3 separate regions of the Homo sapiens genome follow, and all the other regions are linked to region 2. Evidence: fine-mapped expression QTL. A gene starts in region 2. Each other region holds a variant in brackets. All regions are shown on one strand. Distances are between the middles of the regions. Region 1 overlaps METAP1D (methionyl aminopeptidase type 1D, mitochondrial). Region 2 holds the start of DYNC1I2 (dynein cytoplasmic 1 intermediate chain 2). Region 3 overlaps DYNC1I2 (dynein cytoplasmic 1 intermediate chain 2).

The links.
Region 1: its variant is fine-mapped to the expression of DYNC1I2 in monocytes after triphosphate RNA (Kim-Hellmuth 2017, PIP 0.95).
Region 3: its variant is fine-mapped to the expression of DYNC1I2 in blood mononuclear cells (TOPMed, PIP 0.94).

Annotation. Positions count from the first base shown.
Region 1 is chr2:172,040,394-172,050,985 of GRCh38, reverse strand. The region is part of intron 1 of METAP1D (methionyl aminopeptidase type 1D, mitochondrial); the gene reads right to left. Among named protein-coding and RNA genes, the nearest start is that of DLX1, 40 kb to the left of the region's middle. The variant TACACACACAC/C (reference allele first, on the strand shown) is at 5,165.
Region 2 is chr2:171,682,863-171,693,454 of GRCh38, reverse strand. It overlaps DYNC1I2 (dynein cytoplasmic 1 intermediate chain 2), which reads right to left and starts at 5,986. Exons shown (of 18, transcript NM_001378.3): 1 at 5,828-5,986; 2 at 3,192-3,308; 3 at 561-678. The coding sequence starts at 3,299. RefSeq lists an enhancer at 5,816-5,985.
Region 3 is chr2:171,725,273-171,735,864 of GRCh38, reverse strand. It overlaps DYNC1I2 (dynein cytoplasmic 1 intermediate chain 2), which reads right to left. Exons shown (of 18, transcript NM_001378.3): 8 at 10,152-10,247; 9 at 9,784-9,946; 10 at 9,572-9,671; 11 at 8,949-9,074; 12 at 7,898-8,044; 13 at 7,447-7,560; 14 at 7,015-7,148; 15 at 6,012-6,156. Among named protein-coding and RNA genes, the nearest start is that of DYNC1I2, 43 kb to the right of the region's middle. The variant G/C (reference allele first, on the strand shown) is at 5,724.

The sequences.
Region 1 (10,592 bases), 360 kb before region 2:
GCTTTTTAGCACTTCAACAATACATATACTCAGGCAACTTCTTGGACAAAGAAATATTGTATCCTTACAGAGGAAATAAAGAAGCTGTTTATTAGGGCCGTGGTTAAAATGTAATAATTCATTCTAGTTGAGCCCTGTGAAAAATGTCATCAAAATATCATTTTCTTTGTCAGATTTTCTGGATGCCTTAATATCATTTAAACACAGAATAAAAGACAAGCTCTCATCAGAGTAGAAGCACAACACTAAAATGAACCAAAACCAAATGCTCTGTCAAAGTTATAGGAAAGAATTTCACACAGTCCTGCTACCCAGGGAATGCACACTTCTAGGTTAGCACAGAACATCTGGCAAATTTCAACCTTCCAAAGTCTCTCAAAAGAAACATTCCTGTTACCTCACACACTTTGGTTAAAGAAGAGGAAAATAGAATGATTTTATATTAAAGCACACAAATCAGAACCAGAAAGAGCAATTTCATAGGAATCACACATGGAACTGAATTTTAGAGAAAGTCTATATAAAAACATCATGAGTTTTTTAAAAAAAAACTGATATAGTAACAAAATCCTTCTTTAATTCTTAAAAAAACCTCCAGACTATTCATAAATACTACTGTCATATACTACTTAAAATATTAGTTATTTTGTATTAAAATGCCCAATAACAGAAGATATGAGGGCTTATAATCTATGATCAAAAGCACAGCTTTAATATATTTTTAAATTACATTAAAGCATTTGAAAAGAGCATGATTTTAGTCTTCATATTACAATAGTGTCAACTGAATTCTAGATACAGCATGCCCTAGGTATATTGCTGGATGTCTTTCTTTCCTTTTTTCTTTTCAATGGGCCATTGAAAGTTATTGCCACACAAGCAAACCATTGGGATGAAATAGCTCAGAGCTTTGACCAAAATTGTAGTATCAATATCAAAAACAAATAAGACAAAAAACAAAAAACCCTACATCTTAAACTTCCTGAGAAGATTTTCACTGTACATCTCTAAGTGAAAGGCATGGGATAGAAAGAAAACATTTGAATATCAATCTTATCGTGGTATTTTGACAACTGTAGGAGTTTTGTCTCTGCCCTGTAACCAGTCAATAGGAGTGGTAAATCGGTAGGTAGATAGGTCAATAATTACTACCTAAAATGAGAAAGCTAATGCTTCAGGAAAACAATATATTTCCAAGCTTCTGCAGTTGAGAGTACACAGATTCAAGACAACAGAAGCCAAGATCACTCATCAAGGAGTTATTTTCAACCAGAAAAATAAAGAGAAAGTATACAGTAACCTCTTTAGTAAAAGCAAAAGCTCCAAATTTTCTGAAGGCAGCTTTTTGGACTGGTATAGTTATGTTGCCCAAATAATTTTACACTCAATTCTACTAGGTATACCTGGTTGACCATATGAATACTCACTCGACAGTTTTTGGTATTAATTCAAAAAGTACAAAGTGTTAAAATGGCACAGGCTTAAAAGGGGAGCTCCATAGATGCCTGCTTACAATTTGGCCCATATATATGTGTATGTGTGTGTATATGTATATAAGTAAACATAAATATAAATATGTATATAAGTAAATATATGTATATAAGTAAACATAAATATAAATAAACATTTATTTAAATATATATACTTATATATTTAAGGATATGAATGTTCAACTATCTGTTACTTTTTGTACTAAAGATTAAAAATTAAGCCAGGCTGACGCCTATAAACCCAGCACTTTGGGAGACTAAGGCCTGTGAATCGCTTGAGTCCAGGAATTTGAGACCAGCCTGGGAAACATGGTGAAACCTTGTTTCTACAAAAAATACAAACATTAGCCAGGCATGGTGGCACACAACTGTAGTCCCAGCTACTTGGGAGGTTGGGGTGGGAAGACCGTTTGAGCCCAGGAGGCAGAGGTTGCAGTGAGCCAAGATTGCGCTGCTGCACTTCAGCCTAGGCAACAGAGCGAAACCCTGCCTTAAAAAAGTTAAAATAAAATAAAAATTTAAAAACGTTAAAAATTAAAACCACCCCAACCACCAAAAAAACATGTACTCTTTATCTGTATATAGCAGGCTGCTTGCTTCTCATATCTGAAAACACATTACTTGAAAACCTTAGCCAACACCAAGATTATTCACACAGTAAAATGACAAATTCATCATCTCATATTTAAAGTTTTTAATATTGCCACAATACCAAAATATTTGATGTGTAAAACATTTGAAACATATTTATTGTCTGAGGGGATGGGACACTTTTTGAAGTATGCTTCTACTGGAGTGTTACAAAGAAACCTCAACTCTTCAATGCCTAATAAGGTATAGTCAATTTGGGGGTAAAAAAGAAGGAAACAGTGTGAAATTTAAAATTTTATATTTTGCTTGTGAATGCACCATGAGAATTTCCTCCAAAAGATATGCCTTCCTATTTATATTCACTTGAGCTCTTGTTTAAATTGGTTTTCCTTCTCTGAGTACTATTGGTTTACTTAAACAAGTTAGTTAAATTCTTTAAGCCTTAGTTTCTTCATTTGTTAATGTGGATAATAATACCTTCCTCACAGGGTTGCTATGATAATTGTATGACATGATATATCGAAAGTGGCATAAGGTAAGCACTCAATAAATGGTAATTACTATCATTGGTTACCTGACTGTGGGAGGAGGTCACTCTAAAATGGACTAATCAGTAGGTAGAAACCAGCCTGAATTTTAAAATGTGCCTTGGATAATCCACAAAGCAAGTAATTCACAAAGTAATCATGAGATCCTAGGTTGGGTCCCAGAGCTGCTACTTAAAAGTGACACCATCCAAAGCACTGGGCCTCTCCTCACTCCATCACAGGGCCAACCTGAACCCCAAATGAGACTGCAGATGTAGAAACACTTTACAAACTGGACAGCATTTCATGATTGTAGTGTATGAGAGAAGGCTCACACTCAGTAGGATGAATTACGGACAGCCTAATTTTGATGTTTTCCTGAGAGTTCCTGCTGGGCCCTTGCTAGTATGCTGATGGTTAATGGTGAGGTCTAAGGAAAATTCCTTCCTACATCCATAAAAGGCCCTGGCTTTTTTCAAGAATCATATCTTTCTAAACATATAAGAATACTTCTTAAATTTGTGCAAAGGGTGGGATGGGAGAAATTATGTTATAGGAAGATTCTACTTTGCATTGAAGACATTCCCTGTAAAGTGTACTATCACAAACAATTTTAAGAGTTAGATCAGAATGCTGCTATTTTGGCTGAGCGCAGTGGCTCACGCCTATAATCTGAGCACTTTGGGAGGCCGAGGTGTGCGGATCCTTTGAGCTCAGGAGTTCAAGGCCAGCCTGGGGCAACATGGTGAAACCGCATCTCTATGAAAAATACAAAAATTAGCCAGGCGTGGTGGCATGCTCCTGTAGTCCCAGCTACTCAGAAGACTGAGGTGGGAGGATGACTTGAGCCCAGGAGGCTGAGGCTGTAGTGAGTGGAGATTGCACCACTGCATTCCAGCCTGGGCAACAAAGTGAGACCCTGTCTCAAAAAAAAAAAAGAATTCAGCCTTTTTTATTCTGTTACTAAATACCATTCAGTCAATGCTGTGCTTAGCCATAAACTTTAACGTTGCCCTTGGTAACCTCAGTTTGTAAGAATTTAAACCTATTTGTCTTGGTGCACAATCTGTTTAGCAGAAATATTTCAGAGCTCAACAAACCTTATTGTTTAAATGTATCAAGAAGTCTTCTTTGCATAAAAATTCCTGTTTATTAAACAGTGATACAGGAAGAACTTATTTACATTTCAAGCACTACCAACATACATCACTTATGACAAAAAAGGCAAGCACTCCATAAGAAATGCTCAATCACTGTCAATCACAAACACTAAAATATACATAAACCAAAGCACGCCGTGTGAACTGTATTAAATTCAGCTAAACACAGAATTACCAACAGAACAAACAAAAAAACAAATAATTACCAGTGACTCACAGACCTATTTACACAATACACAAAATAACTTGGAAAGGTGTAACCATGGAAACCTGATAGCCTAAATTCAGTACCTTTAAATTTTGCATTTATTTAATCACTGTGCAAATGATGTCCTTACAAAATTTAAATATTTTTAAAGCTGTCAAAGCTTATCTTTGTTATTAGATCATTGATTGAAATAGTTTCAGCTATAAATTAGTTATCTTTAAAATTATGCGGAGACCGTTTAATGAAACTATGATAAAAATGTCAAACAAATTTTTCTAATTTTGTCAGAAAACTATTATTTCACAACCACTGATTAACTGAAAAACTCAACTATTTACAGTAAGTCCCATAATAGTCAAGTAATATTAACAGACACTTTCACATAAAGACTTTTCTTAAATTAATACTGTTGCATGCAACCACCTCCACTTCCTCTAATTAACTACTAAAGCAGAAATGCTACTAGTTGTTTTGGTTTAAAAGTTGTTTTTACTGACAATTACCATTTGAAGAGTTTAATATTTAATGCTATAGTTAGTCCTAATATCTTATATTTTATTTCATAATCTAAATGACTAAAACATTATTTTGTAGTTCACTGCCTCCCACACTTAAGCTGTAATGTTCAGTGTGTATTTCATTATGTAGATGAGCAATGGATGTTGTCTGACATGATTTAAATGGGTCAACAGTATTTTCCTAGTCACATTAATCATCCAGACAGCTAAAATGAAAAAAAAAGTCCTTGAAAACTAAAACTAGAGAATCTATTCACACAAATGACACTTTCCATCAGTGGATTATCTAGGATGTGGTTAAGGAGAAGGAAGAGTTACAGACTTTGAACATATGTTTCATCATTTATTCAGAAACCACTTCAAGACCCTAGCTCTATTTTCAGAATCGAAGTAAACACTCACAGAAAGAGATTTCTGAGATACCAAAGTGTAATTAAAAAAAATAAAAAGCATTACATGGCAATCTTTGAAACTTTTTTGATTCCAGAAAAAAAAAATAAAATTTGGGAAGCCCAGCTCTAAATGAGGCTGAGCCCCAAGAGTAGGGTCAGGCTTATCGTATGTATAAAAATACACAGCAGCATAGGTGCACCAAAATCTCACAAATCACCACTAAAGAATTCCGTCATATATATATATATATATATATATATATATATATATATATATA[TACACACACAC/C]ACACACACACACATATATACATATACATACACATATATACATATATACACACATATATACATATATACACATATATATACACACACACACACACACACACACACACACACATATATATGAATGATCCTTTTTTTTTTTTTTTTTTTCCTGAGACGGAGTTTCACTCTTGTTGCCCAGGCTGGAGTGCAATGGCACAATCTCGGCTCACCGCAACCTCCACCTCCCAGGCTCAAGTGATTCTCCTGCCTCAGCCTACCGAGTAGCTGGGATTAGAGGCGTGCGCCACCACGCCCGGCTAATTTTATATTTTTTAGTAGAGACGGGGTTTCTCCATGTTGGTCAGGCTGGTCTTGAACTCCCAACCTCAAGTGATCTGCCCGCCTCGGCCTCTCAAAGTGCTGGGATTACAGGGGTGAGCCACCGCGCCCGGCTTATATAGGATCCTTTTTAGTGGTTTTGGAGCATTCCCTTATACGAAGGGATCACATAGTACCTTATTTAAACAATGATGAGCATTTTGGTAGGTCCTTTTTGTTTTGGTTTGATTTTTTTGCTTTATATAATGTGTTTTTTACAAGTACAGTTGCACAAGTGATGACTTCTTTTTAGTTTAAATGTGTAAAAGTAGTATTTGTGGGTTAAGAAATATGCAAACTTTAACATATTTGCAAAACTGTTCACAAACACTGCAACTTGTCTTCCTAATGATGCCTATTTCCTATACCTTTACCAACAGTTTAATGTTAAAATCTGTTAGTCTGATAAATGAAAAACTGTATCTCACTTTTACTTATTTTTCTTCAGATACTCCTGAGGTTAAAGATATTTTCCTTTGTTTATTTCTGTATCCTCTTTTGTGAAGTCTCCTATTAGGTCTCTTGGGTTGTTTTTCACCTGATTTATTTATTTATTTATTTTTTTTGAGATAAAGTCTCGTTCTGTCACCCAGGCTGGAGTGCAGTGGCATGACCTCCATCATCCAGGTTCAAGAATTCTCCTGCCTCAGCTTCCCAAGTAACTGGGATTACAGGCATGTGCCACCACGACCAGCTAATTTTGTATTTTAAGTAGAAATGGGGTTTCGCCATGTTGACCAGGCTGGTCTCGAACTCCTGACTTCAAGTGATCCACCCTCCTCGGCTTCCCAAATTGCTGGGATTATAGGCGTGAGCCACCACGCCCAGCCTCTTCACCTGACTTATTTTATTTTTATTTTTTAGACAGAGTCTCGCTCTATCACCAAGCTGGAGTGCAGTGGCACGATCTCGGCTCACTGCCACCTCTGCCTCCCAGGTTCAAGCGATTCTCCTGCCTCAGCCTCCTAAGTAGCTGGGATTACAGGTGCATGCCACCACGCCCAGCTAGGTTTTTTGTTTGTTTTGGGTTTTTTTTTTTTTTTTTTTTTTGTATTTTTAAGAGAGACAGGGTTTCACCATGTTTGCCAGGATGGTCTTGATCTCATGACCTCGTGATCCACCTGCCTCGGCCTCCCAAAGTGCTGAGATTACAGGTGTGAGCCACCGTGCCCAGCCCACCTGACTTATTTTTAAGAGTATTCTGTGAATTACAAATATTAAATGTGTGTACTACACTGTTTCAACTATCTTTTCAGCTTGCTTTTTGTATTTCCACCATATTTAAAGTGTTTTTGGCCACAAAATTGGGTTTACATTGAATTTATGGATTAATCTAAGGACAATATGACTATAATTTTTTGGGGGGACAGGGTCTTGCTCTGTCACCCAGACGAAGTGCAGTGGTGCAATCATAGCCCACTGCAGTTTTAACTTCCTGGGCTCAAGCAATCCTCCTGCCTCAGCCTCCCAAGTAGCTGGGACTACAGGCACATGCCACCATGCCCAATATTTTTTTTTATTTTGCAGAGACAGGGTCTCACTATGTTGCCCAGGCTAGTCTCAAACTCCTGGATTCAAGTGATCCTCCTGCCTTGGTCTCCCACAGTGCTGGAATTACAGGCGTGAGCCACCATGTCCAGTTGACTCTAAAATATTTAACGTCTTCTTTAAGATAAGAAATGCCTTCACATTTCCTACAGTGTTCTTAAATGTCCATCACTGGAGATCTAATGTTTTCTCCATACAGGCCTTGTACATTTCTTGTTATTTGTCTATCCTTGGTTTTTTTTAACTCCTTGGTTGCTACAATAAATGAAATTTTTATAATGGAATATAATGCTATTAAATATAAATAAAATAATTTTTGTAAAACATTAAACGTACTTTTCTTTAAAAAACTTAAGTTTTAAAAATTGAAGTATAATAGTCTAATGTCATATTTTTATGTTCTTTCATGTATCAAAAATCAAACATACATGCAGACTCACACACTTTCTCCATTGGAGGTTAGTGAGTCGTGACCAAGTGGGGTTGACTTTGCTTTCCATCACTGCCAACTCACCCCTCTCTTACCTTTCCTCTCCCCAAATATTATCCTCCTTCCTTCCAAATATGGAGTGCCTGACTGGATAAACTAACAGGTGTTGGAAGTGCAAACCAAGTGAAGTTCCAATAAAAGAATACTATTTTTTTTGTAAGGATCTGATATTTAAAATATTTCTCATAGCTGGGTGCCTATAATCCCAGCTACTTGGGAGGCTGAGATGGGAAGATTGCTTGAGCTCAGGAGTTTGAGACCAGCCTGGGGAACAAAGTGAGATCCTGTATCCCAAAAAATATATATATATATATATATATGTATGTAAATATATGTACACACACACGTATATATATACACATATATGTGTACACGTGTACACATATACACATATATGTGTACACATACACATATATGTGTACACACGCACACATATGTATGCACATGTACGCATATATATACACAGGTACGCATACGTGTATACACATGTACGCATATATGTATACATATGTACACATACACATATATGTACATATTTACACACATACACATATATGTACATATATACACACACACGTATATGTGTACATATACACACACACGTATATGTGTACATATACACACACACACGTATATGTGTACATATACACACACACGTATATGTGTACATATACACACACACACGTATATGTGTACACATATACACACACACACGTATATGTGTACACATATACACATACACACGTATATGTGTACACATATACACATACACACATATGTATATGTGTACACATACACACATATATGTATATATGTGCACATGTACACATACACACATATATGTATATATGTGCACATGTACACATACACACATATATGTATATATGTACACATGTACACATACATATGTATATATGTATATATGTACACATGTACACACACATATGTATATATGTATATATGTACGCATGTACACATACATATGTATATATGTACACATGTACACATACATATGTATATATGTATATATGTATATATGTACACATGTACACATACATATGTATATATGTATATATGTACACATGTACACATACATATGTATATATGTATATATGTACACATGTACACATACATATGTATATATGTATATATGTATATGTGTACACATGTACACATACATATGTATATGTGTACACATGTACACATACATATGTATATGTGTACACATGTACACATACATATGTATATGTGTACACATGTACACATACATATGTATATATACATATATTTTTTAAAATGAAAAAATATATATTTCTGGCCAGGCACAGTGGCTTATGCCTGTAATCCCAGCACTTTGGAAGGCCGAGGCAGGTAGATCACTTGTGGGCAGGAGTTCAAGACAAGCCTGGCTAACATGGTGAAACCCCATCTCTACTAAAAATACAAAAATTAGCTGGGCATAGTGGTGGGCACCTGTAATCCCAGCTACTGGGGAGGCTGAGGCAGGAGAATTGCTTGAATGTGGGAGGCGGAGGTTGCAGTGAGTTGACATGGCATCACTGCACTCCAGCCTGGGAAACAGAGTAAGACTCCATCTTAAAAAAAAAAAAAACTATATATATATTAGGTCATTTCTTTTGGGGGATGAAATATATATATATATATATATATATATATATATATATATATAAAATAATTAGAGTAAGGAAATTAAAACGTTTTTATATTCTTATTCTGTATTTACTTATTTAAAGCTTAGTTTTGTTTGGTTTTGAATTATGTATCTGGCTTGAGTTGGGGGCAACCAGTCTTCAGTGTTAGGGGTCCTGTCTCTAACAAAACAATATAGATCTACATGATCTTTTTTAGTTGTTTCATGAATTCCTTTACGGACAGGTCACACAACACCTTATTTAACCAATGATGAGCATTTAAGTGGATTCTTTTTTTTTTTTTTTGATACAGAGTCTTGCGCTGTCACCCAGGCTGGAGTGCAGTGGCACGATATCGGCTCACTGAAACCTCCGCCTCCTGGATTCAAGCGATTCTTATGCCTCAGCCTCCCACGTAGCTGGGACTATAGGTGCACACCACCACGCCCAGCTAATTTTTGTATTTTTAGTAGAGACAGGGATTCACCATATTGGCCAGGCTGGTCTTGAACTCCTGACCTCATGGTCCACCCACCTCGTCCTCCCCAAGTGCTGCGATTACAGGAATGAGCCACCGCATCCAGCCTTAAGTGGGTTTTTTGTTTGTTTGTTTTTGCTTTATATAATATGCTTTTGGGGGGCCTCAGACTCCTTCAGTTCTTGTATACTGTGGCTATCAGGTACAAGAGGGCCTGAATGGGCCAGGTGTGGTGGCTCACGCCTGTAATCCCAGCACTTTGGGAGGCCGAGGCGGGCGGATCACAAGGTCAAGAGATTGAGACCATCCTGGCCATCATGGTGAAACTAAAAATACACAAGTTAGCCGGGCGTCTCTACTAAAAATACACAAGTTAGCCGGGCGTGGTGGTGTGCGCCTGTAATCCCAGCTACTCAGGAGGCTGAGGCAGGAAAATTGCTTGAACCCGGGAGGCAGAGGCTGCAGTGAGCCGAGGTTGTGCCACTGCACTCTAACCTGGGAGAGAGAGCGAGACTCCATCTCAAAAAAAAAAAAAAAAAAGAGGGCCTGAATGTATCAAAGCAAATAGCACAATCGATTACGATATTTCCCCTAGTCTTGTAACAGTAAAAGAGATCAAAAACTTTGAACAAAAATAAACTTAAAACAAATCTGCCACTCCGCTGAACAAGGACTCTGTATATCTCTAGTTCCTAAAACGCTGTGTATTTAGTTTGATCTCCCCCTGGGAGTAGCAGTATGTCTTAAAATTTTCGAAGAGAGTGTGGGGAATCCTCTCACTATTGCTCCCTTGGGGCAAATGCTCTCCTGATGTAGTTTCCTCCACATGTTTCAGAATACTACTTCCGACTCCACCTACTAGTCTGGAAGAAAATCACTATGCCATATAGTTG
Region 2 (10,592 bases):
TTTTTTGGTCTAGTACAGTTATCAAAATGAATAACCCAGAAAAATAATAAGATTAAGTCAAATCACTTCGAAAATAAGCCACAAAATTATCTCCCTTATTAGCATTAACAGCAGAAGGCTATAAGCTTATCCTTCCACTCCTGTACCTTTGAATACTAATATATTTTGCATTCTAACAATATAAGTCTGATTGTATCTCTCGCTAATCTCCAGAAAGGAATATAGAGTTCAGATCAGGAATCCTAGTTATCTTTGAGCTTAACACAGTATGGCACATAAAACTTGCTTAACCAATGTTTGTTGAAATAAATTACTGATTTAATAAGAGAAGTCAATTGGTAGTTCAGTATATGTTAATAATTACTCTTGCAGCTCTTTTGAACAAATAAAATAACCATGTACTAGCATATCTGAAAAAAAGACAATTCCAAATAAAAGATTAATAATTTTAGAGACACAAGGAAAATATGTAAAATATATCAAGTCAATCCACTCAGCTATGTCTGAGCTGAACAGAATCTATGCCTATCTCTTATAAATGGATATATTCTTAACCTTACCAATGGGGGATTCTGGAGTTAGCCCCATGCTTTGAAGCAATGCTTCAGCTTCTCTCCTTTTTTTTTCAAGATCTGATTCTTCTTGCACAGGAGCAACAGCTTCCTTCTTCTGGTCTGTCTAAAATGTTTAGGTTAAAAACTTATGTTTACATATAGTATGAAAAATTTGTTTGCAAAAATGTTTTAAATAATATGCTAACACTGTATACTTTTAAGGCATGAACTTAGTTTTGAGTACAGGTTAAGTTCTTTTTATAGTCATTAAATGAAAATCATTCTCAATAGAGTTCTAGTAAATAACCTTCAAATGATATGTACTAAACTGCTCTATCTTCATATGTAATCAAGGAGTTTCCACAAAAATTTTCCTAACAGACAAATTCAAGAAGTACAGTCAACTTCGAATTATCTACAGTATGAAATTGCTGTCTATGGTCAGGAATAATAGACAACTTCCCCCAAGTGGCACAAAAGGTTAGATACAATATCACATACAATGAAAAAATTAAAGTGTAATTATTTAAGAGGTAACAAATTTTAAGTGAATGACAATATGATTTGTTGAAAAAGAGTATCACAAACTTCTGTATAAAGTCTTCATTTTATTTGGGATTGTGTTTTGTAAAATTAAACTCACTTTTGCATAGCACAAAACATTTTGTTATGAAAATTTTTGTCAGCTTTTATCTCGGCTATTTATCGTTTTAGCACAATCTGCTGGTTAAACTAGATAAACCTCAATACTCTCAGATCATCCAAGACTTCTCAAGTAAAATGTAAGCTTTCCAAGGAAAAGTTTTTTTTATGTAAATCTCAAATCCCTATGCCACCTAGACAACTATTACTCAGACACTGTCTGGAGTGAATTTTGTTAGCCATAATATTCTATGCCATTTTGACTTAAAAGTCATCAGAAAAATTAATCAAAATAACAAAACAGGTTGTAATATCAAGCTGATGCTTCACTGTTGATAAAAATATATTAATAGACTCACAGTTTAATACCATTGTATTATCTCTTGTAACATTTTTATAAACTTTGTTTTTTCCCATTGGTCTGTGTGACTCAATAAGTTTTACAAGCTTTAAATTAGGTATAAATCATGCAATAGATATCCCTTAGAACCCATTTTTGCCAGTTATGGCCATCATTAGAAAACAAAAATGAAATTTGCTCTCAGCACGGAAATGTTTAGGGATATAAATATTATTTTGGAATAGCTCTGCCAACCTGAATCATGCTTCTACCAGTCAGCTTTTAATCTAATAGCTAATGTAAAGCTCCAATCCTCTTATAATGTCTCACAGAAAGGTTCAGAATAAACTAGCAAATTCTTCAATTACAGGCCTTTACAGCATCATAGTAATGCTGCACATAAATTGTACCTTCAACTTTTCTACTACTTATTTTTCTCTTAGTCCCCAAGAGATTTCTGGCAGTCTTGGCCATTATTTAGGCTACCACATATAAAAACTTGGTCCTAAAGACACACAAGAAAAACTACCTTACACTAGGTATTTAAAACATATCTGTAGTAAAAGTACACTGATATGTCTAAAGAGTTTCCATAGGGATAAAAGTATATTTCAATGCATGAACAAGTAAAATGTCTCCAGCTCAGGGCCAATGTACATTTGCTGTATATAATGTGATGCATATTTTTGATACAAAAAATCAAAAGAAGTACCTGGTCCACCTTTATGGTACCATCAAACCTACTACTCAGTAAAAATATTTCAATGACTAACTCATAAGAGATAAGAACAAATCCCTTAGTCAATTAAATCATCTATTACATATATTTTATTTGCCATTAATATTATCCATTCTGACAAATTAGCAATTCAGACTAGCAAAATATTCAGATAAATTCAAAGTCCAAACTAAGTTATGATATATATACACCATATTTATGAGTTATTATAATATAGACATCTTGACTGAGTGTGGTGGCTCGTGCCTGTAATCCCAACACTTCGGGAAGCCTAGGCAGGAGGACTGTTTGAGTTCAGGAGTTCGAGACCAGCCTGGGTAACATGGCAAAACCTCGTCTCTACAAAAAAATACAAAAATTAGCCTAGCATAGTGACATGTGCCTGTAGGCCCAGCTACTCCAGAGGCTGAAGTGGAAGGATCACCTGAGTCAGGGGAGGTTGAGGCTGCAGTGAGTTGTGCTCAAACCACTGCACTCCAGTCCGAGTGACACAGTGAGACCCAGTCTCAAAAAAAAAAAAAAAAACCCAAAACAAAAAAAAATACAGATGCGCCTTACTTTATAATAAATATATTCCTAGGAGACTAAATTGTAAATTGAACTTTAATAAATCAAATTTTAGAAATGCATCAATCTATACGAAATTGTTTTTAAAAATCATATTTTATCAGTTTTGTCATTTTCACATATCTTGCTTCTTTAAAGTAAGATTCACTTACAGTGTTATGTCTGCAGTCAGAACTGCTAGATTTTTAACTATCCTGAAATTATTAGGTTTGTGCAAAAGCAATCATAATTTTTGCCATTACTTTTAACCACGATTACTTTTGCACCAACCTATATGTAAATATATAAATATGTGAAATAAAACCCAATTACTTTATGTTGTTTATTTAAGCAAAAAAATCAAACATACTTCTTTTTTTTTCCTTTCTTCTTCTTTTCTCTTCTTTTCCTCTCTGATTTGGGCCAGTCGCTGCTTCTTACGTTCCAACTCAGCCTTTAATTCACTTTTGTCTGACATGTTTGTGACCTTAGAAACATATAATCATTATGTTAGTAAAAGCAGCACAGTTGAAAAAACTAGTGTTCCAAGAAGAGAACTGTCCCGAAAGGCCATATAGTTCAATGCTATCTCAAAAAAGCACAAAAACCTTACTTTTAAAATAATGGGGCTGGGCAGTAGCTTACTTTGGGAGGCTAAAGTGGGAGAACTGCTTCAGGCCATGAGTTTGAGACCAGCCTGGGCAACAAAGCAAGACCCCATCTCTACAAAAAAAAAAAAAAAAAAAAAAAAGGCAAGAAAAATAAAAAATTAGGCGGCATGGTGGCATGTGCCTGTAGTCCCAACTACTTGGAAGGATTGCTGGAGCCCAGGAAGTCAAGGCTGCAGTGAGCCGTGATCATGCCACTGCACTCCAGCTTGGGCAACAGAGCGTCTCTAAAAAATAAACTTTTAAAAGATAAAATAAAGGAAGCATATATATTATTACTAAGACTTAAAAAATGTATAAACAAATATATATAATAAATATTACCTAGAGCTGAGCATAGTAGCTAGCCCATAGTAAGCACTTTAATGTTCGCATACACAAACTGAACACAATGTCTCAAAGTTTTTGATGACAATATATTAGGTACCCAAGATAAAGGTCAAAACTGGCTCTTAAAACAGAGGACATGGTTTGGCATTTAGAAGCTCTTAAGCTATATGACACAGATCAAAACTATTACCAATTCTATTGCATTCATAGAAACTTGATAAAAAACAATAGGTCAAACTGAACTTTCCTGTAAGTTCTAAAAGTGCTGTAGTAATACTAAAGCAAAACGCAGGAGTTACCATCATTAGCTATCAAATCATATGACTGTATTTCTCCACAATAACACCTTACGTATACCTCTGATGGCACTTTTAGTACAATTATTTGTGGACATACCTGAAATGTTCCCTATTAGATTGTAATGTACTTGAAATCAGGGACTGTTTTTTAGTTATTTTTGTTGCCTTCACAACATCCAGCAGAATGACCTTAACATTACAATTGACACTGGCTAATGAATAATGGATACGGTAGACACAATTACAATCTGAGCTTCAAAAACCAATTGCATAAACACTACTTCAGCTTGAGTTTTAGGAAGAAATAATGAATTAGGATTTTTTTTTTTTAAGTAGCCTAGCAGCTGAGCATAAGGCAGGAGCCAGGAACTCCTTACCTTCTCCACATGATTGACTTATTGCCTAATGATCAATCTCTTTCAATGTCTCTGTACAAGTGAAGTATTAAATGCTTTAGATCAAGAAAACTAGGAGAATAACCTCTGGAAAACTGTATTTCCAGAGGTTAGGGGAAATCTCTTAAAAAGCACAATTGTTAAATCTGAACAAAGGTAAGTCAGTCAAGAGGAGAAATTCACCTACTAAGAAGTGGATAAAGGAAATTTCAGCTACTAAACTCCATTAAGACTGGCAAGCGAATTGATAATTTTCAAGCATACGAAAAGGATGAAAAGTTGACATAGCAGACCTGAAATATATACACAATATCTTCCAAGATTTGTTTGAACAAACTAAAAGCAAGAGACCGTGTTTCTTATTCCACTCTTTCTACACCTCTAAACAGCTCCATACAAACGGCTGGTGAAGAGAACTTCCATACGTAACTGTATGCTACGCTAGGCACATTATATTTTGTTCAACGTCAACTGTAAAACAGATATACCAACACTAATTGATATTAAAATAAGCGCATTTTTAAAGCCCAACAACAAAGTCTTGACCAGCTGAACTACAGCTGACCAATCCTCTCATCCTCACAGAAGCCAGAGCCTTCCTCCATGACCGACATGTTCACGTTCTTAAAACTCAAGAGAAGAGAGTCTCTAGAGTTTTGTGCTAGAACCTCCGTGTTCGGGGGCTTTCCATCACACATAAGGTGAGGGGAGACACTATCAAGGCAAGTAGAGATGGCCTTAATTTGTAAAATGGGGCAAGGCGAAAACGAATCACTTTCTCCCCTGGGGTCACGGCCAAGAGGGCGCGGTCCACGGCAGGGCGTCCGGAAGAAGCCAGTGGGCGCCGGACAAGCCTCAAGGCTCCCCAGGCCGCCTCTGGAGGGTCGAGAAGGGAAAGGAGTGGACTCCTCTCGCCGGGCCGCAATGAGTCACCGCACCCAGGTCTCCCCGCCTTTCCTCCCCAAAGCTGGGCCGGGCGGGGATGTCAGCAGGAACTGCCAAGCCGCCCTTCGAGTTGCGACGTGGAACACAGGCAGGGAGGCCTTGAGGGAAGAACAGTCAACCCACCTGTCAGGTGACTGGATGGGGAAGAGTCCTCCCGCCTGCAACTTCCCGGTAACGTCCCTCGCCTAAGCCCCCAACACCAACTGTAGCCACCACCAGCTCCGCGGCTTTCCAAAGCACACAAAGAGGGATGGGCGGCGGCTGCTACGGCGAGAGCTTAGGGACAAATAGCCTCACCAGAACGAGGTCGCTCCCAGAAATAAAAGGTGGGGCCCTGCTGCGAGGAATTGTAGCCCCTCCGTGACTTACCTGTCGTAAAGCAGAAGCCGGTAGATAAAACAAAGAACCCAGTCAACCCAGGGGCCTTAAGTATTTCCGCTTTGCCAAAAACTGGAAAACTACGCCTAATATTCTCAGGCCAGGAATCCAACTTCCGCCCTCGCCTTACAAACTGACACGATCGAGAAGAACTACAAACCCCGGCAACAAGGAAAACCTGCGTGCGACGAGCAGTGCGTTCTGGGAATTGTGGTCGCTGGGCGTCGCAAGGTGTGCTGGGACATGTAGTGTGTCCCCTCCTTTAGATTTCCCACTCCAAGGCCTTCTTCCGTCGAGAAGCTTCTGTATAAAGTATTCTCGTCTGTTGATCCGTGCCCACAGTGTAGTATGTGTTATAGTGTAAGATCTTTGACCCAATATTGGCGGAATTTTAAGGTCTATTTTCCAGTGGTGAACCTGTGAATCACGCTGCTGCACATTTGGTGAAGACGTGAAGTAGACTGTTTAGGATGTAAAACATTATATATATATATGTACATACATATGTAAGTTTTAGGGAAAGAATGTCTTATATAGGCTTCATGTGGCATCTTAGGCAAAATCTAAATAAAAATATGTCAACTGACATAGCAAATAATTCTTTAGTATTTTGTTGCAGTGTGGTAGCATTTTGGTTTTCTCTCAAACAATTTTAGGAAATAAAGCATTTTGTATTATTGGACTCTCAAACCAAGCTAGAATGTTTTCCACAGTTAGATTTTTAACATACAAAGAAAACAAAAGTTACTGGAACATGAATTTACCTGCAATGTATACATTGACACACCTTTTTAAAGTTTAAATAATTTAAAGCATTATTTGGCAGGAGTTAAAGCTAACACCAAGGTAATATCTTTTCTATGTTCTAGAAAACTGATTGTTCTAGAAGTTCTAGATATTGCCCAAGTCTAGAATGAACCTTTATGATTCAAATTCCAAGTCCTTGGGCTTGTGGTCTTTTTCTTATCTTTCTCTGCCTTATCTGTGGTCTTTTGTGTAGAAAAAAATATTCTAAAAATAAATTTGAGAAAGAAAATCCTTGGCTTTCCACAGCTTTTCCCAATAACCTAACATTCAAAGAGCTTTATAGCTATGTTATTTTTTTACTTCTTTCCTAATAGTTTTCATGTATTAATTTGAAAAAAAATTATTATTGATTGCCTACCATGTGCCAGCAATGGTGATGGGTGTTGTGGTAACAGCTAAAATGGACCAGGCGCAGTGGCTCACACCTGTAATCCCAGCACTTTGGGAGGCCGAGGCAGGCAGATCACCTGAGCTCAGGACTTAGAGACCAGCCTGGGCAACATGGTGAAACCCCGTCTCTACAAAAAATAGAAAAATTAGCAGGGTGTGTGGCATGCGCCTGTAGTCCTAGCTAGTCACGAGGCTGAGGCAGGAGGATGGCTTGCGCCCAGGAGGCGGAGGTTATAGTGAGCTGAGATTACACAATTGCATTCCAGCCTGGGAGACAGAGCAAGACCCTGCCTCAAAAAAAAAAAAAAGAAAAAGAAACAAAAAAAACAAAAAACATAAAAATGCACAAAAATGCACATCCTTCTTCTCAAGGGAGAAAGGACACTCGCTCAACTAAGAATGGATGGTTCCTGACTGATGGTTTAACTTATGATTTTTTTCTCATTACAATGGGCTTATTAGAGTAAAATGCATTTTCAACATATATTTTTGACTTAAAATGGGTTTATCAGGACATAACTCAAGGAGCATCTGTATAATGATGGAATTATATAAGGAAGTCATAGAAACACCTGGAAAAACTTTTCAGGAAACTTTTGGAAGGAGGTGATTCTAGAGCTAAGTCTTTGATTCTCAAAGGTTGAGTAGAAGAAGTTAGCCAAGCAGAGAAGATGCAGAAAGGTGCCTTGGGAAGAGAAAAGAATATGGACAAAGGACAGAGGTGTGAGAGCATAGAATGCTGGTGAATTTGGAAATAATTCACAATGGCCGTAGGCTAAGACAGGAACTGGGGAATGAAGCCATAAGCAGGGGCAAAGTCGCACATCCCAGTTTAGATTTAGTCCTACAGATGATGTGAATCCACTGGTAGATTTTAAGAGGGTGCAAGGTATGAGAAGGTTTGCATTTTAGATGACTGGCCTTTCAAAGTAGTCCGGAGAAAGACTAATGTGCTGGTTATTTTCTTTGCCCCCCAGATTCATTTCCTGCCCTTCTTTGCTAAGCTCTATGCCTCTGAGGGTTGACCTCAGTTTCTTTAAGGACTGCTTTGTGGTTGGACATAAAGAAGGCCAAGGCAAGGATATCAGAAGGTGGGTAGAAAGGGAAATTGGGGCATCTCTTCCTTGCTCCTTCCTTCTTTGAGTGTCAGATGTCCAGCAATAGCTTCATTCCTTCATGACTACAGTACCTGCCAGATGGCTCTTTCACCATGGCTCTAGTTTTCCCCGGGCTGTCTGGTGATTTTATGTTCTCCTTTTATCTCTTGAACACCTCCTCTGTAGCTAGTCTCTGAGTGCCTCATCATCTCGTTTGTTCCCTTAATACCCGCTCACCCCTCTGTAACTTGTCCTTTCATTAAAGTATTTTCATGTGAACTATCTTGTGAATTCTGTTTCTTGTTGAGACCCTTGTTGATACAGCTTGCCTAGAGGGATGAGAGGTGGAGAAAGAGGTAAGGTAGAGACTGGAAGCAGGGAATGCAACTGGAAGAATTTGGGTAGAGCCAGCAATTATAAATGCATGAACTGATGCATCATCAGTGAGAATTAAGAAAAGTAGATGGATTGGAGAAATGTTAACATTATGTGAGACTTCTACAGCAATAAAGCAGACTAGATACCTCTTCCCACTGAAAACCACTCAATATACTGGCTGGATAATGTAGCTTTTGAGTGGGTACAGTGGCTCATGCCTATAATCCCAGCACTTTGGGAGGCCAAGGTGGGAGGATCACTTGAGCCCAGGAGTTCGAGACCAGCCTGGGCAAGATGGCAAAACCCCATTTCTGTAAAAAATTTTAAAATTAGCTAAATATGATGGTACTCACCTGTAGGCCCAGCGACTTGGGAGGCTAAGGGCGGGAGGTTTGCTTGAATCCAGGAATTTGAGGCTGCAGTGAACTATAATCACACCATTGCACTCCAGCCTGGGTGACAGAGTGACATCCTATTGCTTAAATAAATAAATAAAATTTAAAAAAATGTTTTAAGATATGAAATACGTAACTAAAAAACCCCCCACTTTTTTGTTGTTTTATTTTTAACACTTTTTTGAAGAAATGCATTAGCAGCACTGATTAGAAAGACTGTACCCTGGACATTACATAGTTCAAACCACTATGTCTTCCTACTTTTTAAGTTGGAAGGGCTGGGGAGGAGTCCTAATAAGCATTAGTGCTGCAGGGTGTTTTCGAAGGGGAGAATTTGCATTTTAAAACTTCTTATAATGGTTTGTAGGAGAGGGTAGAAATATAATATATACAGATGAATTTGTTGAACAAACTCATATCTGGATTTACACTTGAATTCAATATGCCAATGTTTGCAAAATTTTAATACAATTAATATATTGACATAATGCAGGATTTCATTTATATAGAATGCAAAAGAAGGTAAAACTAATCTAATGAAATGTCAGAATAGTGGCTATTGAGGTATAGGGATATTGATGGCAAGGGATATGGGGAGGTTTCTGCGGTGCTGGGAATGTTTCATTTCTTCATCTGGTGGGGGTTACACACATTTACATATCTGTAAAACATTCATTGACCTCTACTCTTAACATGGGTCCTTTTTATTGTATGTATGTTATATTCAAAAAATAGTTAAGAAAAAAGTAGCTATTAAACCATGGGACTTAAACAAATGTATAAAACATCAAAAAGATGTAGCAGACACCAAATTGGAAGAGGAAGGAATTTGAAGGGGTTAAAAATGTATTCTGCTACCCAGCAGTTCAGGCATCTCAAAATATTCCAGGAACTCTAGTAAGTCCCAAGTAATCAGCTAGAACATTTATAGCCATTTGTTGACAACCTTGTTATATACATCCTCATCATACAAGTTTTTAATGAAATTATGTTGTGAAAAGAAAGCTGTGGCCCCATAGCAATGCATGAAGCTTTCTAGTAATTATATTTTTAATGCTCTTGCGTAAATGTCACTTGATTGGTTTATAACTTTGCTAAAATGACATGTATAAAATCTAATACATACATTTGTGTGACCTTCTTACCATGCAAAGAACATTTTCCAGGACCTTTTCATAAATATTGGATTGTTATTATTTTTTCCACATTTTAATCAGAGGTCCTCTAAGATTTCACTTTGGTTAAGTTCATGAGGTTTCTACCAGATTGCCTGTGGAATCTTGAGATTGTTCATTCTTCACATGTTAACAGCTCTTCCTGAGTCACTTGTGTTTTTAATTTTTTTCTAAATATTTCCACTTCACCTTCAGTAAATGTATTTGACTCTTAGAAACATTGGCATGAGAAAATATTTTCTTCCAACTTTGGAAACTCTCTTAACTTTCCCATTTGCTCTCATGTCTAAGAGAAGCTCTTTAGGAAACTATCTTCACTCAGGGGAGTGTTCATGAGCTGACCAGCAGGTCTCTGATAATTTAACAGCATTACTTTTCTATTATCCTTATTATTGTTCTAGTCTGTATTTTTCCCTTTGGAGTGTTTGCTGCATTGTTAACTTAATATAGGTTTTTTTTTTCATTATTTCCTCTACTTGTCTTGATGCACATATTTTCTCTGTTAGTGTCAAAA
Region 3 (10,592 bases), 42 kb before region 2:
CCAAGTAAATAATTCTTATGTTTTAACAGTAATCTGTAACAAGTATGGTTAAATGTGGTAGAACATTTAGTGAATCTACCAGGTCTACCCATAATCAAACTCTTCTAGAATCCTTGTTACCCTGCAGAAGCTTTCACTCCTTATTCTCCCAGCCATTTTTCAGACCTGCCAAAGTGCTTCGGTTGTGAATTTAAAATTTGGTATTTTGAGATGGCAACAGAGTCTTTTAAATATATTAGAAGCCCTGTCTTTACTGGTTTAAACTTCCATACACGGAAAATAATCTGTTTGTCTTCTATACAGGTTGAATATCCCTTATCAGAAATGCTTGGAACCAGAAGTGTTTCAGATTTCAAATATTTTTGGATTTTTGAATACCTGCATTATACTTATGGTTGAGCGTTCCTAATATGAAATGTGAAATGCTTCAATGAACATTTCCTTTGAGTGTCACATTAGTGGTCAAAAAGTTTTGAATTCTGGAGCATTTCAGACTTTGAATTTTCAGATTAGGGTGCTCAGCCTGTCTTAAAAATAGTTGAGTTCAATAAAGTAATGAAAACAAGTCAATGAACCAGAACTATGTGACTGAATTATAAATCTCTGGCTAGGCGAAGATTAGTGGCTAGCTGTAGAAGTAGATTGCTTTAAACTAAATTTGAGGCTGTGCCAAATTGAGATTCCCAGGGATTTTTATCATAGAAAGAGAGAAAAGGAAGAAATCTTGTTTTGCTATCAGGGCAGAGCCAGATCTTAAGGACACAAAAGTACAGCAATATCTCACGATTCAGTCTTCCAATTTATGAGGACTCAATTCCTGGAGTCAAAGAGCACTTAAAAAGTAGAGGAAGAGAAGCAAAACATTTAAAGTCTGTTAAATTCATGAGTGTGAAGACTCTGGTTTAAAAGTTTAAAATGAAATTGGAACAAGGTGTTTAAAGAGAGATTATTTAAAAACACTGCCTATTATTCTTTACCATTCATTATTAATTAACATTGCCCATCAGTCATTATTACAGCATAGAGGCTCTATCAGTTTTTCAGCAGGGCAGAAATAAATACCAGCAACACAATTAACCAGGAAGTGTAAATTGACACTGGAGCCACAGTATGGCCAAATATAAAAGTATTCACTTAACAGACTGTTTCTTCTCTACCCTTCACAGAGTAGAACTACTTGTGTGCAGAAAAGTTAGAATGAAGGGTAATTCTTCTGATAAAGTTTCAGAGGGTCCTTAGGCATTTATAAAAACACCATGTTCTATGGTGGCCCATCCTTTGTACAGTAACACTGGAGGGATGTTGGGGGCAGGGTGAGAGGCATGTATCCCAATTGAATGAATAAATGAGTCTTCTATATAAGGCCCAAGGAAGGAAGCAATGCCTAGCCTAATTGGCAAAGAAAGAGATATGCCCACTTGTCATTCTTATTCAGAAGGCACTTCTATGTTGAAACACATTAAAATACAAGAATAAAAATATCAACCGCCCCTCAACTAGCTGTGTAGTACCACAAAAGCAAGTATCAATCAGTCTGCTATCACAAGATAAGTTCTGTCCTTGATTAGTCAAGATGAACTCTTTATTTTCAAATCCTATTATTAACGTATATAAGGATGGAAGCCTCAAATTTAAAGCCAAAGGATGCTGGCAAACTGACACCCTGAGAGAGTAAAAAACAAACTAGAAATAGATAAAAGATTCTTTCACACACAGACTGGGAACAGAATAGGGAACCCAGAAATAAGACCGCACACCTACAATCATCATCTTTGACAAACCTGACAAAAAAACAAGCAATGGGGAATAGATTCCCTGTTTAACAATGGTGCTGGGAGAACTGGCTAGCCATATGTAGAAAACTGAAACTAGACCCCTTCCTTACATCTTATACAAAAATTAACTCAAGATGGATTAAAGACTTAAATGTAAAACCCCAAACTACAAAAAACTTAGAAGAAAACCTAGACAATACCATTCAGTACATAGCCATGGGCAAAAATTTCATGATGAAGAGGCCCAAAGCAATTGCAACAAAAGCAAAATTTGACGAATGGGATCCAATTAAAGAGCTTCTACACAGCAAAAAACAAAAACAAAAAAACCCCTAAAAAACAAAAAAAACTATTGAGTAAACAGACAACTTACAGAAAGGGAGAAAAATTCTACAATCTATGAATCTGACGAAGATCTAATATCCGGCATCTATAAGGAACTTAAATTTACAAGAAAACAACCCCATTAGAAAGAGGGCAAAGGACATGAACAAACATTTCTCAAAAGAAGACATATATCACTGATCATTAGAGAAATGCAAATCAAAACCACAATGAGATACCATCTCACACCAGTCAGAATGACTATTATTAAAAAGCAAAAAAAAAAAAAAAAAAAAAAAAAAAAAAGATGCTGGCAAGGTTGTGGAGAAAAAGGAACGTTTTTACACTGTTGGTGGGAGTATCAACCATTATGGAAGACAGTGTGGTGATTCCTCAAAGACCCAGAGACAGACATACCTTTTGACCAGGCAATCCCATTACTGGGTATATACCCAAAGGAGTATCAATCACTCTATTATAAAGACACTAGCAAAGACATGGAATCAGCCTAAATGCCAATTAATGGTAGATGGGATAAAGAAAATGTGGTACATATACACCACAGAATACTACGAAGCCATAAGAAGGAATGAGATCATGTCCTATGTGGGGACACTGATGAAGCTGGAGGCCATTATCCTTAGCAAACCAATGCAGGAACAGAAAACCAAATACCACATGTTCTCACTTATAAATGGGAGCTAAACAATGAACATACATGTAGACACATAGAGGAGAACAACTCATACTGGGGCCTATCGAAGGGTGAGCGTGGGAGGAGGGAGAGGCTCAGGAAAAATAACTAATGGATAGTAGGCTTAATACCTGGGTGATACAATAATCTGCATAACAAACCCACACATCCTTTACCTGTACCTTCGAATGTAAAATAAAAGTTTTAAAAAAAAGATTACTTTCAATTACCGAAAAGGAAGTTGGCCAACAATCTAACAAAAATGTGTCTCCTGTGACTATACATGGGATTACTAAGATGAAAGCACATCTAAAAATCTAGCAACTTACATGGCTGTATGAAGCCTTTGGAGAAATAGTTGGCTTCATCTCACCAATTCTGCATCTTGCTTTGGTTTTATAGGTTTATCTGAAATACTTGGAACCAGAAGCATTTGAGATTTTGGACTTTTTCAGATTTTAGAATACAGTAAGTCCTCACTTAACATCATTTATAGGTTCTTGGAAACTGTGACGTTAAGCAAAACAACATAAAACAAAACCAGTTTTACCACAGGCTAATTGATACAAACAAGAGTTAAATCCCTGTGGCATTTATCTGGTGATAAAAACATCATCAAATTTCTAAATAATGACCCTAAACACTTCAAATATTAAGCACTGAAATAAAATGTGAGCTATACATACAATTTAGAAAGATTATCATTACTTTTTCAGGTGGAGTTTTGCTCGTCACCCAGGCTGTAGTGCAATGGCACAATCTCGGCTTGCTGCAACCTCCTGCTGGGTTCAAGTGATTCTCCTGCCTCAGCCTCCCGAGTAGCTAGGAATACAGGTGCCCGCTACCATGCCCAGCTCATTTTTGTATTTTCAGTGAGACGGGGTTTCACCATGTTGGCTGGGCTGGTCTCAAACTCCTGACCTCAGGTGATCCACCCGCCTTGGACTCCCAAAGCGCTGAGATTACAGGCGTAAGCCACCCTGCCCGGTCACATTTGAGAAAGAATCATAAAAACAAGATAATTATTAACCCAATTTTTGGTGAAGAGGTGGTGGGTTAAATCAAGGAATAAATGTTTTGCAAAGTGAAAATTGTAAGGAGCACACCCTATCACCAGGCAGTTCTAAAACAATGACAAAGACGGAAGGCTCACTGAGCGGTTTCATACTGCATCCTTTAACTGTCTTGCCTTTGTATGATTACTATGTATCTTACAAATTTTTATTTTACGACAATTTGTATTCATTCATTCATTTTCCAACTTGCTTTTCCCAGTTCAAGGTCACAGCTGGTCAGAGCACAAGACAAGAACCCACCATGGACAGGATGCTATTCTATCGCAGGGCACACTCAGACACACCCACACTCATTCAGACTGGGACAATTTAGACATGCCAGTTGAGCAATCCTCCCACCTCAGCCTCCCAAGTAGCTAGGACCACAGGTGCGCACCACCATGCATGGCTAATTTTTAAATTTTTTGTAAACATGGGGTCTCCTTGTGTTACCCAAACTGGTCTTGAACTCCTGGGCTCAAGTAATCCTTCTGCCTCGGCCTCCTAAAGCACTGGGATTACAGGAGTGAGCCACTGAGCCCGGCCAATGTTTTTTCTTGTCAATTTTATGACAAAACACACTATTTGATGACCTGCTGTATTTGTGTTATACTTATGGTTATACATCTCTAATCCAAAAATCCATGCTCCAATGAATGTTTCCTTTGAGTGTCATGCCTGCGCTCAAAGAGTTTTGAATTCTGGAGCATTACAGATTAGGGATGCTCAGCCTGTGCTAGCTAGATTACGCATTTCTTTGCTTGTGAGCTTTGAGAATCTTCTTCTACCTTTTCCCACTGTATAAATTTCACTAGAAGAATAAAAATTCAAGAACAATCCAAGAAAGGAAAGAGATGACTTATTAAATGTATTCAGGCTCTGTCCGATCCCCATTAAGAGGTAAAAGAGAAACTAAACATTGGTAAGTGCCTATTATTTGCTGGACACTGTGTTAAGCATCTGTTTCCTTTATTAGAGTTCAGGTAAACACTATTTTTATATCTGCTAATGACAAACCTGAAAATGCTCAATTTTAAAAGGCAAGCTTTTAGAGGCAAAGTTTTCTAACCTGTTTCATTATCAGACAGAAAGGAGGCATCAAGAAAGGACAAGAATGAATAATGAGTTCATCCCAGACTTCTAAGGCCAACACTTGATAAATAACTAGGAGTTCACTAAAATAGTGAAGAACATCTCTTACATTAGGTTTTCTTACAGAAACTGAAGAACCAAAGATCTCTAAACTTTGTCTCATGATGAATTATTTAAAAAGTCAATATTTAGGATAAGGCAGATAGAAACAGAAAAAAAAACACCTTAGAATTTAATTTAAATAGAATCAGATGCTGGGTATGCATTTTCTCAGCAATAATGTTAATACCGCAGAAAAACTAGACAGCAAAGTTAAGGCACTTTAATTATAAAATGAGATTAAATGAAATTACAAGTCTATCACAGGAGGTAATGTTGCCTACTTGGATTTGTCTTGAGACTTTCAACAGGTCAAGACAATGTCACATTTATCTGGAATTGCTGGAGGATCAAGAATCATTTTATCACATGAATGGGTTTTTAAAATACTGAAGTTTATTAAAACCAAAATAAATGATTTAAACTGCTTATCATAGAATAACAAAAAATATATGCATCCATGCTTTTACACAATGCTTTCCTAAGGATTCCAGTTTACTACATATAGCCATATTATACAGGACTTATTGTAAATCAGTTTCTCTCTCTCTTTTCCCTATTTCCCATCAACTCTGTGAGCCACTGTAGTTATGAATAACCTGTTAAAAACTCTCCAAAGAGCAAATGCATAGCTTTTGTGCTGAGCTGAATGACAACTGTATGAGGTGCTATGCGAGATACTCA[G/C]GGCTTTTTTCCCAGTGCAGTTCAGGGTAAACAGTTACATGCTCGAAAAGACTGAAGTGGTGGGAAGACTGGTCCTTGATTCTGCGTAGGGTTACCATACTTGTTAGCATATTTTTATAAAAATTACAACATCTAGTAGTTCACTCATGCTCTGTGTAACTTCCTAGCAGGCTTCATCTATTAGCAAACAATTATGATTTAAAAGGTTTTCATCATTCCTATGTAGTATTAGATCACCACCTTGTGTCAGAAACCTGAGCAAATAGCAGACATCTATATTTTAGATACCTTAGTTGTCCAAAGCTTTACTGTCCAGTCAAACGATGAAGTGACAAAAAGATGTGAGAAGTCTACTGCTCCAACAGCTGCATGACAATGGATGCCAGTGATTGGTCCTTGATGCCCCTCAAACATCTCACTGATTCCAGCTTTGCTAATTTCATAAAAGTGAAAATGTTAGAGAAGTCTCCTATAAGTAGACCAATTACATACACATTTTATTATAGGTTTATATATCAGGCCTTGACTTCATTTTGACAGACTTAACTCTGTGCTCATAACTTATCAGAATTAACTTTGTTGAGTGTTATTCCATCCACATTTGGTAACTCTACTAAAGCAATAAGTACCTTTGGAACTGTAAACATCATGCTGTTGACAACAGACCTCAAAAGTCCAATATCTGAAGTGGTGTAATAGAAACAAAGATACCCTACATTTAAGAGAGACAATCTGGGCTACTTTTAAAACAAAAGCTTTGAAGTGAAGGTGATCTATATTTGAGATGAAATCTGGACACTCAATTTTTTTTTAAGGAAGCAATAAGGTACAGCTAGACAATTTCAAAACAGACAGAACGGAAGGAGAAATATTACTCAGTTTAAAATATGTATGTGACATTACTGTACAATTATCAGGAGAATGAACTAATGCTTAAAGTCCAAATAAATCAAAAGGGGAAACAGCTGAAAATCTCATTTATAAGTCTATAGGTCAATATTGGCATGTGCATATTGTATTTGTAACTACTGAATGTTCCTGCCTATCACTAACTTACGTGAGTACATGCACACACACAAAACCACAACCCACAAAATCTAAACACATCATGAATCCAAAATTATCTTTTATACAAAAAGGTATTAAGTTTTAATTTTATGTGCCTGAACACAAAAAATCTGTCACAAATAACAAGTAGATCTACGACAGATTTCTACTTAAATAAGACAATTTGTTTCAATGGGATTAAAGGAGGAATTTTAAATTATTGCAAATTCCAGTTTAGGTTTACCTGCCATGGCGGCATGCTGTGTACACAGAACCTTCTTCACTCCCAACAACAAAGTTGTTGACATCTCCAACAGGGAAGGACATAGATGTCACAGCTACTGCTTTTGACTGTTTATGAACCAACTCCATGCTATCCTACATAGAAAAACCTGAGAAAATTAGTTTGTAAACTTGCAATTTTAAATTTCTGTAGAAAAACTTCTAGTCTTTGATTGTAAACAATTCTTTTATTATTTACATAAATCTAAATTAAATGAAGCAGGTTTCAAAGTAAAATATATATATATGAAACAAACTTATATTAAACACGTTTCAGCTTATAAGCTGTTGTAACACTACTATAAAACAGTTTATGAGAAACATAAGTTGAGGTACACATACACTTAAAACATAACATTTGCCTCAAAATTTCAGTTTCCCAAGTTTAACCCACCTGTGGATGGGAAAGCATGTCCAGACTCCATGAACAAATTTTTCCATCAGTAGAGATGCTAATCAGATTGTGAGCATTTTGTGTTCCAACAACATTTACACAATATACAGGGTGCTAGAGATATTAAAAAAAGTTTTCAGGGATTATTGTACCAAAAAGCAAAACAAAATTTTTAGTCTAATTATAAGCATTCTGTTTATTATCGAGTCTCATAACTTGTGGGTATTCTTAATGTGAAGTTTGCTATTAACAAAATGTTGTCGCAGAAGAGAGATGAGTTTCTAATAAATCTCCAAAAAAAAAAATAGCCTTCATTCTTGGTTGCTAAATGGTGAGGAATTCATACACCAAAGGAAGCACATTCTGAGATGACTCTGATGGCCACTACTAAGTATTATAGCTAAGGATGAAGGAGCACAGAAGCCTAATGGAAATAACCTTATTTACTTACTGTGTGTGCAGCTGCTGACAGTGGAGTTCTTTGCACTGGAGTTCTTTTATTGCTACGGTTATCCCAAAGCACAATTTGGCCTGAATATGTACCACCAACAACAAGATTTGGATGAAATTTTGCAAATGTGGCAGACATCACAGCTGACTGCAAATAAGTAAGATTTTTATACTTGAGATTCAAATGGAAAATGCCTGACAAGTTCTAAAAATCAATCTATTATCCGAAACATTTCTTTCTTCATTGTATGGTATTAGAGGTTATAAAAACAACTAAGTAAATTAATTAAAAGTTTTCACTGTTTCAGAAATATAAAAATATATCTTTAAGATATTTTTTGCTTAAAAGTCCAATGCAATGGCTGTTTACTATTAAGTAGGTTTAACTAATTTATCAAAGAAAGCAAAAAGTTATTTCAGTTAACTACAGTATTAAAAAGATAACTAGCCCTGCATTAGACTCTGACAGTAATCTAACAGTAGAGTACACGCTAGTTTAATTCAAGTTAAGTGTTTACTCAAGATTAAGACACTATTAAAAGATTTTAAATTATGCAATCAGAAAAGGCTTGCAAATTCTAACCTTCTACTAAATCTGCTTTAAAAATCTGCATCTGTTTTCTACTTCAACCATATGTTTCTACTTAAAACCATCTAGTTCCAATTCCTCAGGCCATGTATAAGTAATTCAGTGGGCCAACCATCTAATTGTATATTCACAAATAAGTTCCTGGGAAACTCCCTGTAGGAAAGACATTTTATAAAAGATTCCTTTTATACAGTCAATCACCATAACAGAAAATCACAACTGCAAAGGACTTTAGGTGTGATTAAACATTATAAGAGATGTCAGAAAAGCTACAAAAGGCAGATCATGTTGAACTGAGAAGTCTTCAGTTTTCTGTTAACATCTGTTTGCAAATATGGAGTGGTTTAGTAAAATGCCAATCCAATGAAATCATTATGTTGACAAGAAAAGAAAAAAGGCACTTGTCTTAATTCATCAATGAATTCTTAAACTTGAGGCGAAGACTGTTAAAAGACCACCATACCTGGCAGTGAAACACATACTCTGGGGTAGTTTTTTTGTATTTCATATTCCATACAAGGGCCACACCATCAGGCTCATGAGGGGCATCTTCATTGTTGTTATAGGAAGCCACGAGTAACTCCGGATACTGCTCAGAAGAATCAAGAAGAAAAGAAATGCTATGCATAATAAGAACTGTTTTATAATCCTAGTTATTTGTCTTTATCAGATTATTATTCTGCAAATACAAATACCTAACATTTCATCAAGAGAGACATCTCTAGCATTATGCCTACTGGGACATTAGTACAATTTTAAATTAGAACAGTTAATTATTTTAAATGTTTTAATGTTAAAACATTTAATTAAAATATGTGTCCAAATTTTACACAAAGGATTTGGTGAGCAACTGAAATTAGTAAAACTGGCCTGTATCATAAAGTCCTGAATTTTAAATATAAATAATGCTTCTAATCTTTCTTCCAAAGTACATAAGATGAGTATGTTAACATTAGAACCATCATCCATTAATTTTAAATAACACATATTGATTTATTATACAAAATTCCCATAATTAAAATAAAATGACCTGCTAATTATAATTTTAAAAATGAGTTAAGAGCGGCCTATTTTGTTATATTTTACCTGAGATGACCAATCCAAACAACTAACCACCCGATGCTTTGACCAACGTTCGTCAAAAAATTGTCGATTTAATGACAGTTTAGCACCTGCTTGAATCTCTCTACAAAAAAAGACCAAACCCCCCAAAAAGATGGTGTTATAACTTTTATCACTCTTAATCTTAAAGTAATTTAACATTATTGAAGCTAAAAATCTTAGCAACTAAACATTACCCTTCTTTGTCTTCCAAATCTCTCCCACTATAGTCAAAGAAGATGTTAATCTGCTCAGAAAGAGCTCTTTCTACAATTCTTGTAGAATGGTCAAAGAAACTTAAAAATTCCTCAGAGTGCAAGATTTGTTGCTTTTCTTCTTCAGTCAGCTCATGAGGGGGAGCTGGAAAATAAATAATTTTTTGAAGTATGATTTATGTCAGGCAAATCACGTCAACTCACTATCACAGTATGGATCAATGTATGTTATTATTTTTCAATCAGATTCACTTATTTGATTTACAGCATTTCATCCTACTTTAATACATAATAAAAGGAATCTTAACAGAAATCAACAAAATGTTTTAAAGTTTAATTCCTTAAGATACCTTTACTATCATTTTCCTCATCTTTCTTTAAAGTTTTCTCTTCTTCAGGTTCAATAGGTGGTTTAGGAGCCACTACATCATCATCTTCCTCTTCATCTGAAAAAAAAAAAAAAAACAAACAAAAAAACAAAAAAACAGAATGATATAATAAATTATTTTAATGAAAATAGCTGGTAACTTTTGAGACAGTATTTCAGAAGGTATCACAACTCCCAAGATATAAGCAAAAGTAAACCACTGACCGGACAGAACAAGTACAAATAATAGGGATTTTTATCAACATAATCAAATAGTTAAGTGGAACCTCTTGGTTTTTATACATACCTATGTGGTACCTCAGCAACAGCCACCCTAAATTCTGTAGCTACATAAACTGAAATAAGATATATAAGCAACTAGGATGAATTCCTCATTAAGTCTCTAAAAGCTTGCAAGCATTTA